4 linked regions of the Homo sapiens genome follow. The protein of the gene in region 3 interacts with the protein of the main gene of each other region in a pairwise test. Each region holds a gene or a part of one and is shown on either strand. Other genes may lie near its edges. The genes, in order: CGRRF1, SLC71A2, TPRG1 and HSD17B11.

What was found.
Region 1: the proteins of TPRG1 (region 3) and CGRRF1 interact in binary tests that used the Homo sapiens proteins (3 or more experiments, as listed by UniProt).
Region 2: the proteins of TPRG1 (region 3) and SLC71A2 interact in binary tests that used the Homo sapiens proteins (3 or more experiments, as listed by UniProt).
Region 4: the proteins of TPRG1 (region 3) and HSD17B11 interact in binary tests that used the Homo sapiens proteins (3 or more experiments, as listed by UniProt).

Annotation. Positions count from the first base shown.
Region 1 is NC_000014.9:54,526,892-54,533,921, forward strand, and holds part of CGRRF1 (cell growth regulator with RING finger domain protein 1), read left to right. Parts: intron 1-3,157; coding exon 3,158-3,335; intron 3,336-4,011; coding exon 4,012-4,159; intron 4,160-7,030. UniProt on the Homo sapiens protein: Able to inhibit growth in several cell lines.
Region 2 is NC_000009.12:94,454,539-94,461,542, forward strand, and holds the end of SLC71A2 (hippocampus abundant transcript-like protein 1), read left to right. Parts: intron 1-1,701; coding exon 1,702-1,799; intron 1,800-3,783; coding exon 3,784-3,926; intron 3,927-4,622; coding exon 4,623-4,874; 3' UTR 4,875-6,504; downstream 6,505-7,004.
Region 3 is NC_000003.12:189,314,951-189,321,980, forward strand, and holds part of TPRG1 (tumor protein p63-regulated gene 1 protein), read left to right. Parts: intron 1-542; coding exon of another isoform or gene 543-578; exon of another isoform or gene 579-743; intron 744-5,675; coding exon 5,676-5,870; 3' UTR 5,871-7,030.
Region 4 is NC_000004.12:87,381,159-87,388,188, reverse strand, and holds part of HSD17B11 (estradiol 17-beta-dehydrogenase 11 precursor), read left to right. Parts: intron 1-5,826; coding exon 5,827-5,934; intron 5,935-7,030. UniProt on the Homo sapiens protein: Can convert androstan-3-alpha,17-beta-diol (3-alpha-diol) to androsterone in vitro, suggesting that it may participate in androgen metabolism during steroidogenesis.

The sequences.
Region 1 (7,030 bases), on a different chromosome or scaffold from region 3:
CTCACAGGGATCCTTCCTCAAGAAGGTTTGTGGCTTTTCCGCCCCATCATTTCTCCCTTTTTAGTGGCTTAGCATATTTTCTACAGTCCTTATTTTTTTCACTTTTTTGCAAGGCTGTCTCTTACACTCCGCTTTATTTGCTTGTTATAGATAGTCTGGGTAAGGACAGTTTGAGAGATACCACACCCATGTGCTTCACTTATTTTGATTCTGAATTTTCTTACAGCTACGTCCCAATTCTGTTAATGCTATTGATCTAAAGTGATGTCATGTGTGTACTGAGTTTTAGAAGGCAAAAAAATACATAAAAATTGAAACTCTTTGCAAAAAAAAAAGTGGAAAAGGTAAAGGGAGAATAGTTTTGATGGGGGTACTGACACTGTCTTCAGATAGTGGAAATCATTACATTCTCCCCTCAGTTTATGTAATGGACAAGTTTGTAAAAGATTATAGAGATATACCTAATGCTAAATGACGAGTTAATGGGTGCAGGACACCAACATGGCACATGTATACATATGTAGCAAACCTGCACATTGTGCACATGTACCCTAAAACTTAAAGTATAATAATAATAACATTAAAAAAAGAGATTATGGAGAGTATAATTTTATAGATTCTGTAGTTTTTTTAAATTAATTTTAGAGACATTTTAAGATCTGATTAATCTCCAGTTGTCAAAGGTCTCTGACACTCTTCCCATTTTAGTTAAGTATACAAAGTCTATAAACGAGTCTCTTAAGTAGCTCTGAATCTTTGGGGCTCTGGCTTTTTTTTTCTTTTTACAAAGCAAATAAACAGGGTAGTTTTATATGTTCTGTAAGCTGTAAGTTGAGTTTTAAAAGGCTTATCCTTCCATTGTTCTTTTTTTTTTTTTCTTTTTTTGAAACAGGGTCTCACTCTGTCATCCAGGTGGAAATGTAGTGGTGTGATCATGGCTGACTGCAGCCGTGATCCTCCTACCTCAGCCTTCCAAGAAGTTAGGACCACGGGTGCGTGCCACCATGCCCAGCTAATTTTTGTGTGTTTTGTAGAGACATGGTTTTGCCACGTTGGCCCAGGCTGGTCTCAAACTCCTGGCTCAAGTGATCTGCACATCTTGGCCTCCCAAAGTGCTGGAATTACAGGCATGAAACACCACACCCAGCCTGTTCTTCTTTAATGTAAACAAACACATATATGGGTATCCATTCTTGTGAGATAAACAGTAGCATATATATTTAATTTTCTCTACCTTGCTTTTTTTTCATTTACTAATATATTCTGAAGATCATTTCATAATAGTGTGTGCAGATACTCTGATATACCTCAATTCTTTTTTTTTTTTTTTTTTTTTTAAGAGACAGAGTCTCACTGTGTCAGCCAGGTTGTAGTGCAGTGGCACGATCTCGGCTCACTGTAACCTCCGCCTTCCTATTCACTTTTAATAGCTTCTTAGTACTTTATTGTAGAGTACTATATTTATTCATTTAATCCGCATTGATGAACATTTGGGTTTATTCCAGCATTTTGCTATGATAACTAGTGCTATAATGAGTAGCCTTATACATATATCTTTTCACATTTTTGCTAGTAATACAATAATAAATAATCATTTTGTGTTTCTTGTTTTTTCTTTTTCAATGTTTTAAAATATGCATTTTCTATTTTTTCCTTTCGTATCTACCTCCAGCTTTTTTCTTCTGCCTCATGTTATGTGGTTCTACAGTGACAAAGGGAAAAATATGTGTGATTTTGTATGTGTGTGTATATGTGTGTATATGTATTTGTGTATGTATAAATAAAATGTTTTCCTTCAGCTATTTAATATCAAATGGAATTTTTCATTCTTGAGTTAATACCTGATGATTGGAATCATAAAAATTTGAAATCAAAGCCTGCTCCAATTAACCTATGCAAAGTTCCTACCAATTAAAATTTTTCCTTAAGTATGATTAGAAATGGCCATGTATCAATGCTACTCAGACTCTCAGACTGTGTGTACATACTACTAAATACTGAGAGTAAAATTGGAAAAATCAGTTTTTGGTATCCTGTGGAGCATCTGCTTGTATTTGTGTATCTTCTTCTAACATATACTCTTGATCACATTTTAAAAAATAGGTAATATATCAATCAGAATTCTTATTAGCAAGCAACAGAAACAACTTCAATAAAAGGATATTGGGTAGCTTACAGAATTGCTGGCAGGTTTGGAGAGCCAAAATCAGATGCCAAGGCTGTTGAGCCAGGAACAATGACCAAAACCAGGCCCTTTTTATCTAGTCAGTGTATCAGTGCCAAGGAGTACTACACGTTACAGTTTGCGCTGCTACAGTTTGCACCCCCAGCAGTATGAAAGGCTGGATGTTGCTACCCTTGAATGTGATATTGCTACAAATACCACTAGGAGGGGGAAATCACATAGGTGACACAAAGTAAGTCCTATACAAGTGTTAAATAAAACTGTATAATTTCACATCTACTTACAATTTGTATATCCATTTAATCAGGTCTACTCAAATTGTTATATCTTCTTAAGTTGAAAGTGAACAACTGAATTAAGATACCACTATTAAACTCTTTATGTTTTGGAATCCCCACTCTTTTCCTCAGGATATTTTGCATATTACATGGGACATTAAGTCTGTGACAAGCCTGTATGTTAATGTTGTCAATGTATACATTAATGTTAGTAAAGCTCAGTTTCTTTTTAATATTTTTCTTACAACAGCGATCATGTTGTGGAGCCTATAGGTTGTACATATCCCCTTTAGAGGACAGCTGTATTCTGCTGCACTGTTTCTTGTCGTTAGGATCATATACACTATGAGAGTGGTAGGTTATCAATAGTGAACTGTATTTTAGTTTTAAAAATCTAGATGGGAAATGTCTTAGAGTCGCCAAAAAAGAAAATTAACAGTTTCTAAGCTTTAATAGATAAATAGTAAGAAATAGTTTTTTGATAGCTCTCAAAAAATGTGTAGACATTGAGCTTTTATATCTCTTGTTACAGAGGCCAGTTCCTTCGTTTATAGGAGGCATACCCTTTAACAAGTTCTTTTAACTGCCATCATCCTGGCCAGCATCCAAAAGGAAGCTTTTGTTACTCACCCTGTATGATTGTATTAGAAGTTACATTAAATCACTTTCATTCTTTCTCCTTTGTTTTTTACAGCTGGCATAACCTTGACAACAGATTGCCTTGAAGATAGCCTCCTTACATGCTACTGGGGGTGCAGTGTTCAAAAATTATATGAAGCTCTGCAGAAGCATGTTTATTGCTTCAGAATAAGCACTCCCCAAGCATTAGAAGATGCTCTGTATAGTGAATATCTCTATCAGGAACAGTATTTGTATCCTTTCGTCTGATATACCCATTAGCACTGAAAATTAGACTTCTTATGGATAAAGTGTTGCTAACTTATTGATCATTCTTGGTATACTAGAAGCATGTTTATTGCTTCAGAATAAGCACTCCTCAAGCATTAGAAGATGCTCTGTGGAGTGAATATCTCTATCAGGAACAGTATTTGTATCCTTTCATCTGATATACCCATTAGCACTGAAAATTAGACTTCTTATGGATAAAGTGTTGCTAACTTATTGATCATTTTTGGTATACTAGAAGCATGTTTATTGCTTCAGAATAAGCACTCCCCAAGCATTAGAAGATGCTCTGTGGAGTGAATATCTCTATCAGGAACAGTATTTGTATCCTTTCATCTGATATACCCATTAGCACTGAAAATTAGACTTCTTACGGATAAAGTGTTGCTAACTTATTGATCATTTTTGGTATACTAGAAGCATGTTTATTGCTTCAGAATAAGCACTCCTCAAGCATTAGAAGATGCTCTGTGGAGTGAATGTCTCTATCAGGAACAGTATTTGTATCCTTTTATCTGATATACCCATTAGCACTGAAAATTAGACTTCTTATGGATAAAGTGTTGCTAACTTATTGATCATTTTTGGTGTATTTTTGTTCTTATGGTTATAGTGGCAATTTACCTTTACATTTTCAAAAAGTATTAAAAAGGATAGCAAAGAAGAAATATATTGCCAGTTACCAAGAGATACTAAAATTGAAGACTTTGGTACAGTACCCAGATCTCGCTATCCATTGGTAGCGCTATTGACCTTAGCTGATGAGGATGACCGGGAAATTTATGATATTGTAAGTAATTGAAAATTTTGAAAGCATTACCTTTAAGTGATTTGAATGGTGGTTCTTCATTATTTGATAAATAGAAAAAGTTTTATTTTAATTTCTGAGGATGTGCATTTGGCCTACAACAACTATATACCTATTTGGTTTTTATATGTGAAACAGTACCTTCAGATTATGACTCATTTCTTGCCTTATGGGTCACAGTAATATGACTTTATTTGGAAAATAAAAGATATATAATGGTTGAATTAAGTTAGTTTCATCATTAACACCTATTTGGTTGTATACACCTATTTAGTTTTTATATGTGTAACAGTACCTTCAGAGTATGACTCATTTTTTGCCTTATGGATCACAGTAATATGACTTTATTTGGGAAATAAAAGATATATAATGGTTGAATTAAGTTAATTTCATCATTCTGTATTCTGTCATATTTGCTGTATAGAAACAGTCTGTTGGGAAGCATGTTTATTCTGAACATGTTTAGCAGTGAATAAATAAGCACAATAATGATCGAAAGTGCTCAATTTTAAGATAGTATCCACTCTTTTTTTGCCTGCTTGCAGTCACCTTGTTTCCATCAAAGTCCCTGCTGCACCTATATCTTATATGTCTGGTCCCTGTATTTTCAGTAATTATAATAATCTCCTTTCCTCATTATGTGCTAATTATTTTTTCAGTCTGATAGTTGATTCCTATTAGGAAGTTAAAAGTATCTTAGAGATCTAAGAGGACTGAAACTTTGACAATCATCTGAGTATAATAGAAACTTAGACATGAAATAAACTTTTGATGAAATTGTATCATGGTAAAAATGTCCTTACACACAATTGACTACTTTTCTGAAGTATTTAATATAGATTATTCATTAATAAACATATGGTAACATTGTTTTGTGATATTCGTAATATGCAAAGTACGTTCACAAACATGAACTTATTTTTTTCTTCTAACAACCTGGTTTCTTAGGACAGGGCAAATATTCTCCTTTCACAGACTGAAACAGAGTCAAGAAAAATCCCAGTCATTCAGGCAGTAAGAGATGGAACAAGAGCTTGACTCTGAGCTTTTTGTGTGTGTTTGTTTGTTTTTGTTTTTTGAGTTTATTTTTTTTAGCAGGAATATCTTCCTGCAACAAGTGTACATTGAGCTTTGGAAGGTAAAGACTCTTTGGGAAATCTAGACCCTTCTTACTCATTTGCAGTTAAGCACCTAGGTTTTTGGTTTTTAATATTTTCAAACTGAAGTTCCATTGAGCTGAGGTCAGCTTATTTTTTCCAAGTCATGGGGAGCAGAGGGGAAGGAAATGGGGATATGTAGGTCACTAGAGACAAAGTTACAGATACATAAAATGAACAGGTCTAGAGATCTAATGTACAGCATAAAGACTATAGTTAATGTGGTATTGCTTTTGGGATTTTTGGTGCTCTTGCCACATGCAAAAAAAGTGGAAGTAACTGTGTAAGATGATGCGTAATTTGCATTATAATAGTAACCATTTCACTAGGTATATATATATCAAAACATCCTGTTGTACACCTTAAATATATACAATAAAAATACAAAATACAAAAGTCATACCAGCAGTAGTGTATTTCCAGAACCTAGTACAGTGCCTAGGATATAATAGGGGTTCAATAAAGATTTGATAAGTAAAAAAAAAAAAAAAAAGTCATACTAGACAATGTTAATGAGCCTCATAGAGCTTGACAGCGAAACACCTTAGCTGTACATCCCATGCACCTTAGCGTGCATGAGAGGCCTTCTGGCTTCCTCCCTCCTTTCTCTCAGTTTCAGTTAGAGATAAATAAAACCTGTTAAATTGGTGTCTCCTATTTCTAGCTTCTTTGTTCTTGACCCTGTGTACTTGGGCAAGGAAGCCCTTCTGCCCCCACTGTGTGCCCCATCTCTGCTGAGTTTCTTGGGTTCTGTTCTCCTTTTTCCTTTGGTTCAGCACAAAAGGATCAGATCGCAGTCATTTTCCCTCCCAGCTTCCCCATTGCATTCCTTTTCCCTTCACTGATAGTGCTCTCTAGGTGCTCAGGGTCTTTTTTTTTTTCTAACTTTCTTCCCCTGTCCAAACAGGGAGTGATTGTGTATCTGTGTGGTAAAATATATATATTTTATATATAAAGTTTACCATTTTAACCATTTTTGTGTGTGTGTTTTCAGTTCAGTGGCCTTTTAGGCCAGAGAAGAGTTTGCTCTCAGGTCCCTGATCACACTGGATGAAGACTGTGTGGCCCAGCTGTAGTTGTGGGAGGCTTGTTCCCATAGGGAAGCCTGAGTGTCTCCCAAGGGTTAACAGCCATCTTCTCTTGTGCTTTGTGTATGTCTCTGTGTCTGGGTCCTTTTGAATGTCTTTTATTCTCATCTGTGGGCTCCCTCCTTTTTTCCTGTTAATCCTTGCTTCTCGTCTTATTTCTTAGATTGGGGGTAATATTGGCACTCAAATATATTTATTAGTGTATTTTGTATTAATGTTCTCTGTTTATAATTTTAAAAGCAAATGGACCATTTCCTATTTCTTTTTCATATGTGTTTTTTCAGTATTGTATGTGCGTGTCAGGGACTATATTTTTTTAAAAAATTTATTAATAAAATCATTTTTATTTTAACAGCAAAGAATTATATTTAGGTAGTACAGTTAGGAACCACTTTGTTGTTTTAGATTAAAAAAAGGAAAGCAGGAATTGTTACTACAAAATTTTGACTTTAAAATTTTTTCATTTTTAGTTAATTACATTGGCTTTTTTTCAGTATTATTCAAATAATACATTTGTGGCAGGAAAAAAAATTAGAAAGTGTAGATAAGCCAAAAGGAGAGAAGTATAATAATCTGTATTCTATCATCCAAAAATAATCACTGTGAAT
Region 2 (7,004 bases), on a different chromosome or scaffold from region 3:
GTATTTTTAGTAGAGATGGGTTTCACCATGTTGGCCAGGCTGGTCTCAAACTCCTGACCTTGTGATCTGCCTGCCTCGGCCTCCCAAAGTGCTGGGATTACAGGCGTGAGCCACCGCACCTGGCCACATATGCTAATTTTTAGAGACATTGAATATAGTCAAAAGCAAAACAAGAAGATACAAAAAAAATGACTGATTATGGCAAGCTTCACTATGACTTATCATTACCTATCAGTAACATAACCTTGATAAATCATTTGAGTTTGAACACTAAAATTTCTTCCAAAACCATGTGCATTCTGCCGCAGTTATTACTACCATATTAGATTCCCCCATAAACAGGAAGGAAGGTCCAAATAAGCTCAGTGGAATAAGAAAAATTAGAAGGAATCGTGAGTTTTGTTTTGTTAATGTGGCAGGTTTCTCCATGTGCCTGGTGGGCAGATGCAGAAATGCCTTCTCCATTTTAGACGGTAGAGCTGGTCCTTACTTTGGACACAAACAGACAACATAATTTAGAGAAACTAGAATTGCCTTAGTTATCATGTTTAGTTTGGGGAGTAAGTACATATGCCCCTTCTGAATTTTGGAATTTCATTTGATCCGCTTGCTCTTTCCTTTTTTTTTTTTTTTTTTTTTTTTTGAGAGAGAGAGGGTCTGGCTGTGTTGCCTAGGCCAGAGTACAGTGGCACAATCATGGCTTACTATTACAGCCTTGCTGCCAGCCTCAAGCGATCCTCCCATCTCAGCTTCCTGAGTAGCTGGGAGTATGTACACGCACCACCACGCCTGGCTAATATTTTGATTTTTTTTTTACACCATGCCTGGCTAATATTCTGATTTTTTTTTTTTTTTTTTTTGTAAAGACAAGGTCTCATGTTGCCCATGCTGGTCTTGAACTCCTGGGCCCAAGCAATCCTCCTGCCTTGGCCTCCCAAAGTGCTAGGATTACAGTCATGAGCCACTGTCCCTAGCCGTCTGTGACTTTTTACCAGATTAACTTGCTTGATTCTCCTTGTTCTTTTTGATTTTGCTCCTGTGAACTTTGGTTCAGTAGCTGATTTAGTCACATTCATGTAGTGTTAAAAAGACTTTGTCATCATGTGAGGTTTTTCTTTTTCAGTAATGACCATCCCAAAGTTGGGGCCTCACTTTACTCACTCACACTTCATACTGATACATAGTTAAGACTCTTATTGAGAGGAGGACAAAGGTCTAAAGAGGAAGGCAGGTCTGTTTTTCCAGTTGGGGGCACACCATGCTCTCTCTGTTGAGGGGTAGCAAGCTGTAGCTCGAGGGCAGTGTGAAAGTGAGCCTTCAAGAGGTACAAAGAAAAAATGAAAGGTCAGTGGAGAAAATGTGGTATTTATAGCAACAAAAGAAATCTCCTTGCGAACTTCATTGAGCTTATGTCTAAAGATAGCAGTAGGGAGACCAGGGAGAAGAAAAGTTTGTAAAAGAAGTAAAATCAAGACACAAAGGTTTCCTGGCCCTTCTGTCCCCATCCTAGGCCATTCGTTTCCTCCAGTGTCACATGTAACCTTGTAGGTTAAAAAAAAAATGCATTTTTAAAGAGGAAAAAATAAATAAAATGTAACAGGAGAAAACAAGGCATTTGTACTTTTGCCACTGATTGCATTCCGAATAGTGAGCTCCTTGAGGTTGACCTGCTGCCTGACTGTGCCTGTCCTGTCATTGCAGGATGATGTGGGCAGCAGGGACCGTGGCTGCCATGTCCAGCATCACGTTTCCGGCAATCAGTGCCCTCGTCTCTCGGAATGCAGAGTCAGATCAGCAAGGTGAGGTCACTGCCCCCCACTTGTTTTTCTCCTTCAACGGGAGACCTCCCTGCTAGAAGCAGGAGCAGCTCTGAGTTCTCCCCATCAACAGCAGGAGCCGACAGCCATATGGCCCCTTTTATCATACCTATTTACTTTGGCAGATAGGAACATTCTATTTTCCTCTCTGCTTTGATCTTACACTTATATTTTTTAAAGCTAGACTTAGCAGTTCAGATTGCTAACAATTAGAAATAGAACTATTCATTTTCCCTTTTCAGTTTTGATACATCTTTTCTTCTTTAGTGTCACAATTAAGCAGACTATAATCACATTTTAACAGATGTCTATTAAATAATGAAAAACCAGTTAACCACGAGTTACTTAATTACTTTATTCACTAATTATTTGGAATAACTCAAAGTCTTTGAGCTTAATTTAGAAAATAGTTTGAGAGTAGTAAGAAAAAGTCTGTGTGGTTGTTGATAGATGTTGAGTGAGAGATGAAATTAAAATTAAGACTGCTATGTGGAAAATAGCATTCTACCATCTAGATCCATATCCCATCCTTCCCATGCCTCTGCTTCCCTTCCTGTCCTGTCTTGTCCTCCCTCCATCCCTTCTTCCCTCTTTTCCCACCCTTCCTCCCCCCACCCCCCACCTCCTACCCCTTACAGGGTCTCACTGTCACCCAGGCTGGAGTGTAGTGGTACAATCTTGGCTCCCTGCAGCCTCCGTCTCCTGGGCTCAAGTGATCTCCCAGTCACCCTCCCAAGTACCAGGGACTAGAGACGCACACTACCATGCCCAGCTAATTTTTTGTATTTTTAGTGGAGATGGGGTTTCGCCATGTTGCCCAGCCTGGTCTCGAACTCCTGGGTTCAGTCTGCCTGCCTCGGCCTCTCAAAGTGCTGAGATTACAGGTGTGAGCCCCCATGCCTGGACTGCTTTCCTTTCAAGCAGTTCCCATGGCTAGATTTAATCTCTTTCCTTCTCTATCTCCTAATGGCTCACCTTATTGTATTCAGGAAGAAGTAGACAATTTTAGAGGGAGAAAAATTTTTTAATGCCTAAGAGCCCTTTTTTTTAAAAGTTTTAGTAAAAAACTATATTGGAAAGGATGGTTTATTCATTGCATTTTTTTTTTCTATATCAGAAGTTAGGTATCTTACTCAGATTCATTGTTAAATATTGTCCCTTGAAGACCACACATTCTGTATGTCACTCCTGGCTACAGTAACTCAGTTGGTTTGCATCCTTAGGGAGGTGCTGTGTCTGAAGTGAAGATGTGATGACCCATCCGTGGAGGACTGTCACTGCCTTGGCATCTGACAGACACCGTCCTGTCATTTGGGGCATGGATTTTCTTTTGACTTTTTATACTTATTCATGTCAATATACATGTTTCTGAATGTCAGCATATAAAAGTTTTGGAACACATTGTATTAGGCTGAATTATATACTACCATTTTTGATTTACAGAAACATTCATTTCATACAGTTCAAGCTAACTTTTTACTTGCTATGTTAGAAAGCAGAGATATTTAGGAATTTGGCACTTCTGGGTTTTTCAGTGTAGGTCTCTAGGGAGATAGGCTGGAATACACCTGTGAAGATGAAGTCTGCCTACTGGGGACTGGTCTGTATTCCTGACACCAGGGCTGCCAGAGGTGAAGGGCAAGTTTTTGTTGTGAAAGCACCAGTAAATGACCAGAGCAGGGAAATCTCAGTTGACAGAAAAGTGGACATTGCCTGAAATGGGAAGATATTAAAGTTTTGGATTGTATATGTTTTTATGATTTTATATGTTTTATATGGTTTTATTAGTTTTGGATTTTATTTTATAATGGATAAAGTCTTCCTAATCTACTTTCATTAGCATGCTTTCTCTTTTCCTCAGTCTTGCCGAATTAGTGTATCATGGTTATGAGAAAGTACTGTGCAGCTCCAAATCTTGAGATGCCTTTCTGAGAAGACTGGCATTATTTTCTTTGTTCTGATTTAGGAGTTGCCCAGGGGATCATAACTGGAATAAGAGGACTATGCAATGGCCTGGGGCCAGCACTGTATGGCTTCATATTCTACATGTTCCATGTGGAACTGACTGAGTTGGGCCCGAAATTGAATTCTAACAACGTTCCCCTGCAGGTAATTTGGTCATAAGTCTAGTTTTGTAACAACAATTATGTATGATTATAGCAAAATCTTGTGACCTTAAATTTGGAGAGCATTCTTTCTTGTATGTTACTATATTTTATTTGGCAGCAATAAGTATTGTGTTCATTGCTTCTCGGGATCAGGGAGGGGTCATTTTAGTGATTTAATATCTTATGTAAAAGATATGTCTTAACTTTGTTCAGATTCTGTTTTCACCTACACAATCACTACACTATTCTCTGGATAAGCCCAGGCTAGTTAAAATTTGAAATGACCTAAAAATCCAGCTAAAAATTGAGGTAGGGTACTTTTTGTACTATTTATTTGAAATTTCTTCCCTTGTTCCCTCTAAGCCATATCTATACAAAGCTGGAATTAATGTTCATGTACAAAGGTGCATGATCTGAAGTCATAGGATGGGATTATAGGTAAACAGCTGTTGCTTACAAGCTTACAGTTTTGCTTAAGCTATTTGGAAGTGGTACAAAAAGCAGTTAATTAGTTGCCCTTTGTCATATTCCAAACACCAAGCTCTAGTGGAGTTTGCCTTGACATTTAATGAAACATTTGCTTATGAGAATATGATTCACTTTTTGGTGGTGTGTTTTTTTTGGGTAATCTAGGAATAATTTTGAGTTAAAAGACTAACTGTATTCTTTGTCTCCACTTGTTTTCCACGTTCAACAGGGAGCTGTCATCCCAGGCCCGCCGTTTTTATTTGGGGCATGTATAGTCCTTATGTCTTTTCTGGTTGCCTTATTCATTCCTGAATACAGTAAAGCCAGTGGAGTTCAAAAACACAGTAACAGCAGCAGCGGCAGCCTGACCAACACCCCAGAACGGGGCAGTGATGAGGACATTGAGCCACTACTGCAAGACAGCAGCATCTGGGAGCTCTCTTCATTTGAGGAGCCTGGGAATCAGTGCACTGAGCTGTAAACTCGGCAGAAAGTGGGATTCTGCATACGCCATCTCTGAGAGCCATGGAGGGAGCCACACCCCTGGTGACTTCATGGTGCTGGATGGGAGACGCTAGCGGCATCCTTCAGGGCCAAGTTTGATAAATACCACCGCCATCATTCTGCTCATCCTCCTCCTGTTTTTTTTTTTTCTCTTACATTCTTTTTTTTTTTCCTGTTTATACATTAGAACAAGATAAGATTTGAAATACTTCCTTGCAAATAATGTGCAACTCCCAAGGTGAAACTCAAATAGAAAAAGTCATCTCTCTGGTAGAAAGGATGGCTTTCCTGTAATGACTATAGAGTAAGAGTGGCAGCAATCTTTCCATGCCCTTTTCAGCAGAAGGCACAGAACAGTAGCGGGACTGCCATCTCTGGCAAGATTTCAGGTAAAGAATCTCTTCTTAATTTCTACCTTCCTGTTTCTCTGAATCAGCCCATAGGTGTTGATGAGTGGCCACTCTTAAAGAGTCACTCAGTATCAGGGATCTACTGTCTTTGTTCAAAGGTCAAATAAAAACCTAGTCTCCTTTTATTCTACTTTCTATTCTTAGCTAGAATGAAACTCAGCATATATACACTTCTGGACATAATAATATTGAATAGTAATTACCTTTACTAGATGAAAGAAATTTTCATTACAAACTTAAATCATGTAAAACTCAACAACTCAGATTCCTGGACCTGGTGTCCTGGTTGGGTCCAAGGTGATTTTACAGAAGAAAAAAACAACTCAAGCATTCTGGTGGCAACATAGAGATTGTAGGCTGCTTCTAAGAAAGTTATTAACAATTTGGAAATTCCTAAGTAGGATGAGAGTTAGTAACTGGATACGAGTGAAGTTTATATCCAAGTTCAGACTCAAAGGCATTATTATGATTTGCTTCTTCCCATGTCTTCCATGTCCTGCTTCTCAAAGTTTTTCTCATCCATCACACTCCTGCCTTAACTGCTCTGAGTATGCATTTGTTTTCAATTCATCTTTATTTCAATCTGTTTAACTTTTGAATCGCATGGGAATACGCACATTAAGTTCCTTTCTAAAATAAGGTTTTATGAAGCTGAGTTTCACGATAAGTGTCTTGCTATTTTTTGAGATGTTTTATGGACAAAGAAAACTTTACAGATTTATATGTATTTTGCTGCACCAGTAAATGGACCATTAACTAGGGCCCACCTTTAACAGAGCACCCCTTTGAAAGTTTTATAGGTATGAAATATATGTAGATATTTGTAAAGGGTTTTAATTTTTTTTTTTTGATGGGGTGCTGTGTAAATCTTGTATTTATAAATGTAATGAAGGTATTGACAGAAAAAAATATATACAACTTTTATAAAGGATTGTGTACTGACTGAATACATTTAAAAGAAAATATATTTTGAAACCTGTTCTGCTATGAACAGAGATAACATATCTTTTTACTATGCTATTGGTTTTTAGGTTAAGCTTCCTAATGCATAATAAATTTACAGTGGTTACTTTTATGTCTTGTGTCTTTTTTTTAAAGCAAATAGTATTGCTCTTTTGGGTTCTCTGTTGGGTGGCTTTCAATTAAACTGAGTTGTAATCTTTCAGCTGATGCAAAAGGTATGTATTTTCAAAAAAATTTTATTTTTAACAAAATTCCTTCAAAGTCTCCCTTCAAAAACATCGTAACTACAGATGCTCCTTGAAAAAAACATCGTAACTACAGATGCTCCTTGACTTACCGATGGGGTTCCATCCTGATAAGCCCATTGTAAGTTGAAAATATCATACATTGCAAATGCATTATTAACACAGCTTAGAAGCTTCAGCACTTTCGGTATCAGCACAGTAGAGTATTGGTTGGTTGTTTACCCTCCTGAGTGCATAGTGATTGGGAGCTGCAGCTCACTTGCCACTGCTCAATGTCACGAGAGAGTATCATACCACATATCGCCAGCCTGGGAAAAAAAATCAAAATTTGAAGTATGGTTTCTACTAAATGGGTATCGCTTTTATACTGTCATGAAGTTGGAGACCATCTGTATTTTTATTTTTAAAAAGCAGGGACAGAACAAAAACGCGTATATCCACGTTCATAGCATTCATAACAGCCAAAAGATGGAAAAAAACCTAAGTGGC
Region 3 (7,030 bases):
CTTTAAAAAAACTTAATAAAATAAATTAATGAGACATGGTGGCATGTACCAGTATTCCCATTCCAGTTACCTATAATCCCAGCTACTTGGAAGGCTAAGGCAGGAGGACTGCTTAAGCCCAGGAGTTCGAGTCTGCAGTGCAAGTCTGCAGTGAGCTGTGATTATACCATTGCATTCCAACCTAGATGACAGAGCAAGATTTTGTCTCTTTAAAAAAAAATGAGGACAGTTATTCAGAGGGATTAAGTGACTGAAATCATATAATAATAGTTCTATGTTATACCCAGTTTCCTAATATTCAAGGAAATGGGTATAAGCCTGAAAGAATTGTGTGTGTGTGTGTGTGTGTGTGTGTGTGTGTGTGTAAGGGGGGGTGAGAAAGAGAGAGACTGTGTGTACATTTGTATTAATTGATGTGATATGGTATAATATTGTATCTCAAAACCTGGCTCAATTATCCTCAATTATTTCATCCACTTTGTATTTGCAACTTATAGCCTTACCTTTTCTTTTTTAACCATCGCTTTGCTGGGTTCCTACAGTATGCAGAGACTACTGCTGGGAAGGATGAGTACTGAACCCAGAACTGATGAATAGCAGTGAACGCATTATGTGTGCCCTACAACCATCATGATCTACAGACCAACCATTTGTACTCTTTTCTTGTATTTCTATCCATCTTTTCAAGGGGATCATGTAAATGAACCAATGTTTTAGCAATTAAATTTAACTTTATACTCTTAGCCCTTTGTTTGCCTTTTACAACAATTCAACAAATATTCATTGAGTACTTACCTGGCAGTGACCATTACATGATGAGCAATATTCTGGATTACCAAGAAGAATAAAACTGATTTTGCCCTACAGATACTTACGGCGTAGGGGGAGGAGGCAGCAAAGACTTTCACAAATTATAATTTAAAGTACTAAGATTGTAAATAGGGGGAGCCCAAAAGTGGGAACAGATAAGTCCAAAAGTTAACAAGTCTGATGACATTTGATATGAAACTCAAGGTATGGGTGATTTAAGCACCAAAGAAGGTGGGAAAAGACATTTTAATTAGAGGAAACATGCTTAAAAGCTGCGAATTACAAAGGTATACAAAATGTTCTCCGATAAAGACTAATTCAGTTTAGCTAAGTTTAAAGTGCACTTGTGTGTGTGTGCACATATGTGCATATGTTCAGAGAGGAGGGTTGGGGGATGGGATAGGATGAGGATGGAAATTGCTATGGGTAGAAACCTCTCTTGTGCAAGAAAAAAGAAGCTACTGCCTCTTCTTATTTGTCTCTATGCACTTGAATTTATAGTCACAGGGGCTCTATGAGGATAATTCCAGGAAAAATGTGCAAAGATGATATATACAGTCTGTCCAGCAGTGTGACTTCTCAAGTGATTTCAAGTACTGGGTATTGGATGGGCGTGCCCTCTATGACAGGAGACTTGGAGACTTCCTTCCATACACAGGGAGGCTGAAACCTGTAGCCTGCAGGCTCAGAAAACCAGCTCAACTGAGGAATGTGGGCCTACAGGCATGAAACCTGGTCTCTTTACCCAGTGTAAACAGGAAGCCAGTGATGGTTGTAATAAGGAAAACTGAGACTCCAGGCAATGAACTGTTGGCAGACAGCACCTAAAGCAAACCTGTGGACCAGGCACTCGGCTGGTAAATAATTGGTGGAAAGTCAAGAATAATACGATGTCCCCCCTGTCCCCACCACGCACACTGCTGCTATACTTTATCCTAACCAACACACAGCCCCTGTGTAACTGGAGTTGTTAAAACCTGACCCTCTGTATTTGGGACTGAAATAAAAGAGAGAGCCAGAGGTGGGTGCATAAAAGCTTTTAGGGAAAAGTATGTGGCTGGTGGCATTCATATCAGATGACACAGCGTTCCTGTCACATAGATTTAGTTCAGGTGCTTGAAATGCTCAAGAGCCAGCTCGGGGACTTGGCCTTTTGTCTGCCTCTCCTTCAATGCACTGCTTGTCACCCTGCTTGTCTCTCTGTAACCATGCCCTCCCCTGGCTTTGAAGGGGCTCCTAGAAATGACTGGAAATGAAGTCCATCTGACTCCAATGAAATGCCAAATTCATTGAGTATGAAATAGTGCCAACTTTTACTTTCTAGCACTTTGATTTTGAGTCTACAGAGGATTCTTAAGGAAAGAAGTTTATGATGAAGCCAGAGGAAGCATTCAGTAATCCAACTGGACAAGATTTACTGATCTATGAAAAGGCATCCTGATAATCCAGACTTTGGATAATCCAGACTTTGTTGCAATAGAATTGTTGAGATGAATTATACTTTGATTTTTAAGAGATCATGGTTTGGTAATGATGATGAGGATGATGTCAGTGATGATTAAGCAGTTATTATTTATTGATTCCTGGCAACAAGCTTCCTTTATGGCCTTTGCAATATAACTCCAAATTTCAGGCTCATCTCATTCTGCTTTCCTAATCCTTTATATAATATGTGAGCACACAAGTGCATGTATGTGCACCCCTCCATTCACAGCGTGTATACAAACACTTTATTTCACTTAATCTTTACAACCACCTGATAAGTTTGATACTATTAATATTCTTATTTTATGGCAAAGGAACTATAAATTTCAGAGAGGTTGGATAACTTGCCCAAAGTCACACAGCTATGTGAGTATCATAGTTCCAACTTAAGACCCCTCTGCCTGATCCTATACTTCCTTTAGTTCAGTGGTTCTCAAGAGAGGGTGATTTTTCCCATGGGGGACATATGACAATGTCCCAGTGTCCCAGTGAGATATTATCGGTTGTCATATCAAATGTATACTTACAAAGGTATATAAAATGTTCTCTGATAAAGACTAATTCAGTTTAGCTAAGTTTAAAGTGCACTTGTATGTGTGTGCATATATCTGCATGTGTTCAGAGAGGAGGGTTGAGGCATGGGATAGGATGAGGATGGAAATTACGATGGGTAGAAACCTCTCTTGTGCAAGGAAAAAGGAGCTACTGCCTCTTCTTATTTGTCTCTACACACTTGAATTTATAGTCACAGGGTCTCTATGAGGATAATTCCAGGAAAAAATATGCAAGGATGATATATACAGTCTGTCCAGCAGCGTGACTTCTCAAGTGATTTCAAGTACTGGGTATTGGACGGGCGTGCCCTCTATTACAGGAGACTTCCTTCTATACACAGGGAGGTATCTGTCTGGTATCTGGTGGGAGGAGGATAGGGAGGCTGCTTAACATCCTAACATGCAGAAGACATTCTCTGCCATAGCAAAAGATTGTCTGGCCTAAAATAGCAATAGTCCCAAGGTGAAGAAACTTTGGTTTAGCTGTACAGACAGCCACATTTGTGACTCTACTTCATAGAAAACCAGATGAAATATTTGAGTGGAGGTATAGGTATAGGAAACACATAAGAGAAAAAAAGGTCAACTTTTCCCTTGAGTTTGTGGGAAGGCATTGTGGAAGATACAGGATTTAAGCTTGGTTTTGAGAGATGTGTTGGAGAGTCGGCACTATAGATCTTTTTGGATTAAATCATTGATTGCCAGAGCTGAAGTTTCCTAGGCAAGTGATTTTCATTTAAAAAGAAGTAAAATCTTACTTGGAACTCAAATATATAAAACTGATCATAAAAATAGAGCAGCTCTGATGTGATTGAAGAGACTAAAATAAGTTACCTGCTTGGCTTTTGGCTTTTTGTTGACATCCTCTCCTCGAAGCCTCAGGTACCTGCTGTCCCAACATTATTCACATAGCACTTCCTTTCTTTTCCAGAGAATTTAGATTTGGATGATAAATTATATGTACCCACCCAATCTGTGAAGAGATCTAGTGTTCTAAAGAACATGGTTTAAAAATTAATGAATGTAATATTTTCTCCCTTTTGCAAATGAGGAACATGAATTCTTCCCTAAATATCAGAATTTTAAAACTAAATTTTCTAAAAATTAGAATTTTATAATTCCTGCTCATAACAGCAATGTTATAAAGAGAGGACTTCAGGAGTTAAGTCAGGAGACCTGAGTCCAAGCCCTTGCTCAATCATTTACTAGTTATTTGGTATTGGGTAGATCCCTGTAACATTTAGATCCTCAGTTTACCTACCAGATCCCCTCTACATTGCCCACAATGCCTAGTATCTTATCCAACAAGAGTTTCCTGAATTTAATTCCTACTCTCTGTCCCATATCCTATCATGTTTAGGCTATTAACTTCACTTTATGAATATCATTCTTGACTTCTGGGTCTGTGATTATTATTATGAAAAATTTATAGACATGGACTTTTTATCTGTATATTTCTTCATGGTCCCAGATTCTATATCCAGTTGCCTATTGAAAATCTCTAAGAGGATTTCTGGTGAGGTAACTCAAACCACGTGTCTGCAACAAAATCCTCCATCCCTGTATCTTACCATTTCCAATCTGTACCTCTCCTAGGCTTTCTCAACTCAATAATAATATCGCTATCTACCCAGTTGCTCAGGCCAAAAACCTGGGTGTCATTTTTTTCCTTCTCATTTCTTCATCCCTAAATTCAATCACACCAACACATTCTTTGGCTTGAACCCCCTGCCCCCCAAATCCCTAATTTAACCAGTTCCGATGGTCTCTACTGCTACACTGTCCAAGCCACCGTCGTATCTTGCCTGGACTCCTGAAGTGAACTCCAAACTCATCTTGTCTTCCTGCTTCCATTCTTAGCCCTAAGAGCATTCTATTTTTGACTCCACACAGTAGCTAGGATTATTATTATTTGTAAAATAACAGCATACAACATTGAACTCCTTCCTAAAATCACATCAATCCAAAGCCCTTAATATGGCCCTGAAGACTCTTCATGCCTAGTGCTTCAACCTCTTTCCTTTGATCACTAGACTTCTGTCTAAAAGGCGTTTTCTGTGTCCCTTGAAGAAGCTAAATTCATGCCTCCCTTACAGCTTTTGCAGGTGCTGTGTTTTCTGCTTGGAATTTCTTCTTCACGTAACTAGCTCTTTTTCATTGTATGGGTCTCAGTTGAAGTTTTACCTCCTCAGAAAGACTTGCCCTGAATACAGTATGTGAAGTAACTCTAACTTTCATTACTTTTTATCCCTTTACCACATTCTATTTTCCTTCTAGAATTTATCACCTTCAAAATTTTTATGAATATTTTTTGTCTGCAATCACGAGAATGTGAGCTCCATGACAGCGGGGTTTTTTTGCCTGTCTGTTCAACTTAAAATGTCCCTGGAACTTGTTGTAGGCGCTTCATCAATATTTCTTAAGTAATTTCAGATGCCCTTTCATCTATTAGTGACAAAGAGAGTCAGTTTACAGTACTAATACCGATGCAAATTATTTGTATACTAACAAAATATTAAAGCAGCTAAAACTAAAATGGTACTTGGTAGACTTATGTGGATGATAAACAAACTGAAAAAATTACATATTATTTCTGACATTAAGAAGCAAAATTGGGCCTGAGGAAAGTTAGTCTTAATGGACTTAAGCACAGTTATTAACTGAATTAACTTAATAGAGATAAATTTAACCATTTATGTTTAAGAAGTAAGAATAACTGCAGCCCCAGGAGAGTAGTCAACTTCTGTGAAGACTGGCTGGGGAGATGAGTATCTCTCAACTTAATCTACAGTAACTAACTTTGTGCCTTCTTTTTTTCTTCTTCAGTTGTCTGGGTTCATGTCTAAGCTTGTTCCAGCTATCCAGAATGCCCACAAGAATTCAACTGGATCTGGAAGAGGAAAGAAACTGATGGTGTTAACTGAACCCATTTTGATTGAGACCTACACAGGGCTGATGTCATTCATTGGAAACCGCAACAAACTTGGCTATTCCCTTGCCCGTGGGAGTATTGGTTTTTGAGAGTCTTTTTGGTACCATAAGCATATCATCCACAGATATGTCACTTTGAAAATTCCAGTTTGACCCACGCTATTTTTGGACTGAAACAATTAATTATTTTTAAATGACGCTTTATGATTTAGAAATTTAGTATTTCCGAAAATTTAAAAGCTTGATTGGACTGATAGATACACACTTTAGACCTCATACAAGAATAATCAAATTTTCTTAAAACTAGAAAATAAATGCTGCTGAGCCTATCAAATACTGTTATCAAATGAGTGCCTGATCATCAACTCAGGAAAGAAGACTCTAAGTCCTGTTGCTTCAGCTCTCTAAATGTAGGCTTTTTTTTTTTTTTTTTTTTAGGTCTTGGTCTTCAGCCCTCTTATCCTGATTTATTCTCTCATTGGGGTCTCACTGTCTCTAGTATTTTAGCTACCACTTGATAAGGATGACTTCCAAATTTATATTCCCATTCCCAATATTTATTCCAAGACTCAGTTTTGCATTTCTGACTGCTAATCATCTATATATCAGTGTCCCAGTGGCCTCTTAATTGAGCATTATCAAAATCCTGTGGTATTTATATGGTCCCAGTTATCCATCCCTGAAGTCTGTCAATTTTGATTTCTCTAAATTCCTTGCCATGACATCCTATATATGATCACATCTCTATACGGCTTAGCATTGTATTCCGATGCCCAGATGTCAAACTTGAAGCTCATTCTCTTATCAAAATTGTTCATGTATTCCTCCTTTCCATTCTTATAGCTGTATTATTAGATCAGGTTTTTAATTCTGCTCAACCAATTATTACCACAGCCTGTTAAATGGAATCCCTACTCCAAGGCTGACTGTTTCAATCTATCCTACACTTGGTTTCTAGCTCATTTACTTATACCATCTTTTGTTCAAATATATATTTTTTAATAACAGACCTTTTTCTTCTAAAGAAATCTTTTGTAGAAGCAGCATATACGAAGCAGATAAAAGTAGGTTCAATGCGGTTGGAGTGAAGATGAGAATGCCACAGGCATCTTTCTTTCTAGGCCTCAGAGGTGCTGCATATGGAATGTCCATGGATCGCAGAGGGTTTTGAAGACCATGTTTTCAAAAACACTGTCTTAACACTCTATTGTCATTGCTCTTTTCCCTCTTATTTCCTCTTTGTCTCTTCC
Region 4 (7,030 bases), on a different chromosome or scaffold from region 3:
CTAGATTGTTTTTTTTTTTTTTGGTGTGACTACTAGAAAGATTAAAATTATATACATGGCTTGCGTTATATTTCTATGAGACAGTACCGGTGTAGAGATTTAAAGGGCTGGAGCTACAGATGATAAAATTTCCTGTATTTTGGCTTTTTACTCTGGGGAGTCAATGAAGGGTTTTGAGGGTAATTCCTATTGAAGAGGATCCTCCAGCTGCTGGGCTTAGGAGAGATGTAAGAGGAGAAAAGATGGAAGGAACAAGTAAAGTAAGAGACTACTGTGATAATCCAGGCATGAGATGAAATGATGGGGACTATTGAACCGGGTTGGCAGTAGCAGAGATTCGGAGTAATGGTCAGAAAAATTGAGGACAATGTAGTGAGTTTTTATTAGGTTAAATTAGTTTAATTTAAATAATCTATATTTTATTTTGAGATTATATCCTTCCTACTTTTTGTGGGTAAAAAATATATTTGTTAATGAAATTACATGATAACATATGAGGGTCATTTTGTTAGTTTTGAGTGTCCTTATTTGGCCAAAAGTTTGGCAATCCTAGTTCGGTATACACATCCCACTCTATTTTTCTTGCCGTTTTATAGATTTGAAATTATAGAAGGCTGAGAACCACTAAACCTGATTGGGAAAGGACAGGGTGGGGATTTGGAGCAGTCCAGGTAGCAGAAACTGGAGATGTGAAGCTCTTGGGCTGGTGAATACCTGGAGAATGAGGAAGAAAGTGGAGTGGTGTTTGATTGTTATGAGATCTAGCTGGCAGGGCAGGGAGGGGCCAAACGGAGGGCCCTTTCACCTAGAGTACAAAGACAATCTCTTAGATTCATCCATGTAATGAGGACAGCAGTGTCCACATGTACCATATGTTAATTTAGGGAAGAATTAATGGTGGTGTCAGCTTTGTTGTTCCACTAAGCCTGATAATGGGAATTATTCATTCTGCTTTGTGATAATCTATCACTTCTTGACTATTCTCATTCCCATGCTTGGTTAGAATAGTTTGTAGCCAGGCATGGTGGCATGCTTCAGTAGCCCCAGCTACTCAGGAGGCTGAAGCAGCAAGATTGCTTGAGGCCGGGAGTTCTGGACTGTGGTGCGCTCTGCATGTCTGCATAAGTTCAGAATCAATATGGTACCTTCTGGCGGTGGGCATGAAGGAGACCAAGTTGTCTAAGGAGGGGTGAACCAGCCAGGTTGGAAACGGAACAGGTCAGAGCTCTGGTGCTGTTCAGTAGTGGGATCATGCCTGTGAATAGCCACTGCACTCAACCTGCGCAACAGGGAGACCCTTTTTCCTAAAATACTAGTTTGGAAAGAAAAATTTACAGTAAGTGGTGAGCATATAATATATGCTCAAAGACTATTTGTTGAATGAAAAACTGAATTAATGAATAACTGAAAGAATAATGGGCATAATTTAAAAAGTTTTTCAATTTTTAGTAATCAAGGTAATGGGTGTAAAGGTCTTAGTTGTACCAATAGACAAACATATTTGAAAAAAGTTACCAAGGGAAATCTTGAAGAGTTATGAGCAATTGTACTGTGCTGCAAAACATTTTAAAGGAAGAATTCATTTTTTTTTTGAAGATCTGCTTATTTTTTATTTCTTACCAACTATCTACAGGGCACTGTCCGGAATTTTTTCTGGAGGAATTTAGAACTTAAATTTGTTGCACCGGCCGGGTGCAGTGGCTCACCCCTGTAATCCCAGCACTTTGGGAGGCCGAGATGGGAGGATCACTTGAGGCCAGGGGTTCAAGGCCAGCCTGGGCAACATGGTGAAACCCCGTTTCTCCTAAAAATATAAAAATTAGACGGGTGTGGTGGCGCATGCCTGTAATCCCAGCTACTAGGGAGGCTGAGGCAGGAGAATCACTTGAACCGGGAAGGCAGAGGCTACAGTGAGCTAAGATTGCACCATTGCACTCCAGGCTGGGTGACAGAGCGAGACTCCATCTCAGAAAAAAAAAAAAAAGTTTCACAATTCAGAAGGTGTGGAAAGCAGACCAACCTAAATGAGGAAGACCAAGGAAACAGGGCAAAAGTGAGACAGCGGATGTGAAAGAAGGGTATCTTTGCATCCATATAGTGGAGTGGTGGTTAGTTGCTTGGTGGTTACAGAAAGCCAACCAGTAATAAGCAAATCTCTGAAAACAGAATAAATGGGACATAAATTTTTATTGTAAAATTTGTTCATGTAAGGAAATATATTTGTTCAAAAAAGAGAAGACCCAATCAATACAATATACTTTTTTTTTTTTTTTTGAGATAGAGTCTCGCACTGTTGCCCGGACTGGTGTGCGGTGGCAAAATCTTGGCTTGCTGCAACCTCTGCCTCCCGGATTCAAGTGATTCTCCTGCCTCAGCCTCCCAAGTAGCTAGGATTACAGGTGCCCACCACCACACCCAGCTAATTTTTTATATTTTTAGTAGAGGCAGGGTTTCACTATATTGGCCAGGCTATTCCCAGAATCCTGACCTTGTGATCTGCCCACCTCAGCCTCCCAAAGTGCTGGGATTACAGGTGTAAGCCACCGCACCTGGCCAATACAATATACTTTTAAAAAACTTTTTAAAATATGGTAAAATATATGACATAACACACCATTTTAACCATTTCTGAGTGTACAGTTTAGTGGCATTAAGTACATTTACCTTATTATGCAGTGATCTCTTCTATTTCTCTCCAGAAATTTTTCATCTTCCCAAGATGAAAATCTGTACCCATTAAAACAATATATCTCCCCAGCCCTCTCTCTCCCCAGGTCCTGGCAACAACCATTCTATTTTCTGTCTCTATGAATATGATACTCTGGGTACTGCATATAAGTACATTCATATGGTATTTGTTTTTTGTGTCTGGCTTATTTCATTTGGCATAATGAAGGTTGTACGTGTAGCATGTGTCAGAAATTCATTTCTTTTTAAGGCTGAATAATATTCTATCCTATGTGTATACAACATTAATATACTTGTAAAAGGAAATGCCAAAAGCTGCTGGTTAAGTATAGGAGAGCAAAATAAAGTTTACCTGAGATGTTGATGTCCCTTGAGGAATAAGAGTTCCTCATGAGAGTATACTACAGTTTGTGAGGGAGATTTCAGTAAAAGAAAAATATTGTGGGAACCTGCCCCCAATATTTCAATGTAGCTTCTTTCTATTTTCCATAAGTGTCAGCCGGCTGAGAAATAAAGAGAGACAGTATAAAGAGAAATTTTACAACTGGGCCGCTGGGGGTGACATCACGTATCATGATGCCCCTGAGCCTCAAAACCAGCAAGTTTTTATTAAGAGTTTCAAAAGGGGTGGGGGTGTAAGAACAGGGAGTAGGTACAAAGATCACATGCTTCAAAGGGCAAAAAGCAGAACTACTGATAAGGGTCTATGTTCAGTGGTGCACATATTGTCTTGATAAACATCTTAAACAACAGAAAACAGGGTTCGAGAGCAGAGAACCGGTCTGACCACAGATTTACCAGGGCAAAGTTTTTCCCCACCCTAATAAGCCTGATAGTACTGCAGGAGACCAGGGCGTATCTCAGTCCTTACCTCAACCACATAGGACGGACATTCCCAGAGCAGCCATTTATAGACCTCCCCGTAGGAATGCATTCCTTTCCCAAGGTATTAATGTTAATATTCCTTGCTAGGAAAAGAATTTAGCAATATCTCTCCTACTTGCACATCCGTTTATAGGCTGTCTGCAAGAAGAAAAATATGGCTCTTTTTTGCCCGACCCCACAGGCAGTCAGACCTTATGGTTGTCTTCCCTTGTTCCCTAAAAATCACTGTTATTCTGTTCTTTTTCAAGGTGCACTGATTTCATATTGTTCAAACACACATGTTTTACAATCAATTTGTACAGTTAACACAATTATCACAGTGGTCCTGAGGTGACGTACATCCTCAGCTTATGAAGATAACAGGATTAAGAGATTACAGGCATAAGAAATTATAAAAGTATTATTTGGGCACTGATAAATGTCCATATTAAAATGAAATCTTCACAATTTATGTTCTTTGCCGCGGCTCCAGCCGGTCCCTCCATTCGGGGTCCCTGACTTCCCACAGGAGAAAAAGAACTTGTTTCCCTTTATTATCATAACAGTTTCACTATGCAAGCTACTAATTCTCCCCACAGCTGTCCAGATTTGGCCTTTCCAACATTAGTTGCCATTTACAAATGTGTACACTGATTCACCATCCTCTCTGTGGATAAATGTATGAGTCCTCCTAGGGTCTGCCCATTAGTGCATTAGTTGACAATTATTAGGTTGATGCAAAAGTAATTGCAGTTTTTGTCATTAAACTAATGGCAAAAACAGCAATTACTTTTCCAACAACCTAATACTTGGCCTGCAGAATGCACAATACTAGATCTTCATCCAAAATATCTTTTGAGACATTCTCTTAAAAGTTAAAAAAAAAAAAAGGCAAAAATTGGCCAAAAGCAAACAAGCAAAGATAACAACAACAACAAAAAACCCCAATGGTATGATCCTAAACTTAAGTTGACTCAAAATTGGCGCCCCAAATTGGACTCATAACCCCTTTTCCTCAAATCTGCTGTCATCTCTGTCTGACATGTGGCAGCGTGATCTTGCCAGCTACCAAAACTAGAAAGCAAAGATGTCAGATGTGGCTCCTTCCCATCCTTCCTCATCTACTCACCAAGTCTTACTGATTTTACCTTCTAAACATATATTTTAAAGGATATTCTTTCCTCTACATTTTTTCTACTAATGCCACATTTCAAGTTTGTGTCATCTATTACCTGAATCACTGTAACTGCCTCTCAGTTTTTTTCTTCCTCCAGTGTTGACCCCTAAAATCCACCCTCCATACATCAGCCAAAATAATCAATACGACACATAAACCTGACACTATAATTTAATCAGTGGCTCCTCATTCATTTTTTGATAAATCTTAATATGACATGTGGGACCTTAATCTGAACTTCTTCTGGCCTTGACCTTTATGATCCATCCAACAACACTAATCCTACTAGTGGTTTCCACAAGACCAATCTCCTATCTGTCATTGCCCACACCCTGCCTGATGTGTCCTTTCACCCTGGGGAAAGCAAGTGAAAGGGCATGGCAAACCACTGCTGGAATTGTATTGTGTGCCCCTCTGTGTTCCCGTAACTCCCTGTATAGAACTCTGCTGTGATACTCATCACAATGTATTAGGTTGAAACTGCCAATATTCAATCTTTTATTATCAAAACAATAACAGTATTACGTGGTCCTACTTAACTATGATACTTATGTTTCTTTCTACTACACAGAGAACTTCTTGGGGTCGGGACTCTACCTCATTCATATTTGTGTCAAGGTTTTTCTAAGCTCAGTGAATATGACCTTCACATTAAAATGCTGAAAGAACAAATGGTTTAATGAACTGTGGTTAACTCATTATTTCTTTTGCAGACAGTAAACTGACATCCATGAATAGTTTTTAATGACATGGAAAAAAGTTTAATGTTACATTTTTTAAAGCCTGATATGGAATACACAGAGATACCAACATTCACAAAGTATTCAAAGTTCATAAATATAAAAACTAGTATTTTAAGATTTTTATCTTCTTTTAAGAAGCTTGCTTTAAATTCAGCTCCAAATAAAAGAAGCTAGTCAAAATACTAAAAGCAAAATGTGCCTATATACCTGCCAAAAATGTGTTGTTAACAATCTTGCCCAATTCAAATGGAAAGAATCTCACTACTTTTTAAAAATTATTTTTAATTATTTTCAGCTGTCGATATAATATGTTCATATCAATTATTACCTTGCCCTCTTTTTTGCTTTTTCTAGCATGGACTGGAGGAAACAGCTGCCAAATGCAAGGGACTGGGTGCCAAGGTTCATACCTTTGTGGTAGACTGCAGCAACCGAGAAGATATTTACAGCTCTGCAAAGAAGGTGAAATGTTGTGTTTAGTTAGAATCATATCATGTTAGAGCTAGGAGGTGTTTTGGAGATGACCCAGTCTGTACATGATATAGATGAAGTACCTGAGAAATGTTGTTATTTGACCAAGGTTATAGAACTAGCTCATAGCAAACCCAAAACTAGAACCGAGAACTGAACCTCTCAAATATTAGTATGTTCTGGAATTTTCCAGGGAGTTGTTAAAAATGTATATATATACTCTTGGGCTCCACTTCCAGAGATTTTCTTTCAGTAGGTTGAAGGCAGGGCCTCAAATACATCCACCCTGCCTCCCATGCGCCTTCATCTCACCCATGATGCTCATATAGGTAACTATGCCTGGATGACACTTGCAGAATTGCTGACAGGGTCTTCTGAAGCCCATTCATAGAATTGGGTTAGAAAGTTACAATAAAGCTATTCTTTATCAGGTTTTTATTGTAGATAGATCTATTTCTTTTCTTTTCTCTTTTTTTTTTTTTTTTGAGATGGGGGGTCTCACTCTGTTACCCAGGTTGGAGTGCAGTGGCATGATCTCGATTCATTGCAACCTCCACCTCCCAGAATCAAGCAATCCTCCCACCTCAGCCTCCCAAGTAGCTGGGACCACAGGTGTGTGCCACCACGCCAGCTAATTTTTTGTATTTTTGGTAGAAAACGGGGTCTCACCATGTTGCCCAGGCTGATCTCGAACTCCTGAGCTCAGGGGATCCACCCACCTCAGCCTCCCAAAGTCCTGGGATTATAGGCATGAGCCACGCTCCCAGCAGATCTATTTCTATAAAGCATTATTTGCCTCTTCTAGATACAATTGAGATGTGCTGTATATAATGGGGTTTCACTCTGAACGCATTCTCGCTTGTACCTGTTAACTAAATACCTTAATGGCAGCAAGGTCATCAGAATTACCTGGGCAGATTCCTTAAAATACACATTCCTGGACCTTACCCCTGGATATTCTAATTCAGTGCAGTATAAAAAGTGTGATTCAGCAAGACTTGAGAACCTCTTTGTTTATGGAATTTTTGGTTTGAGTTCTTTTTTTTTTTTTTTTTTTTTGAAATGGAGTCTCACTCTGTCGCCCAGG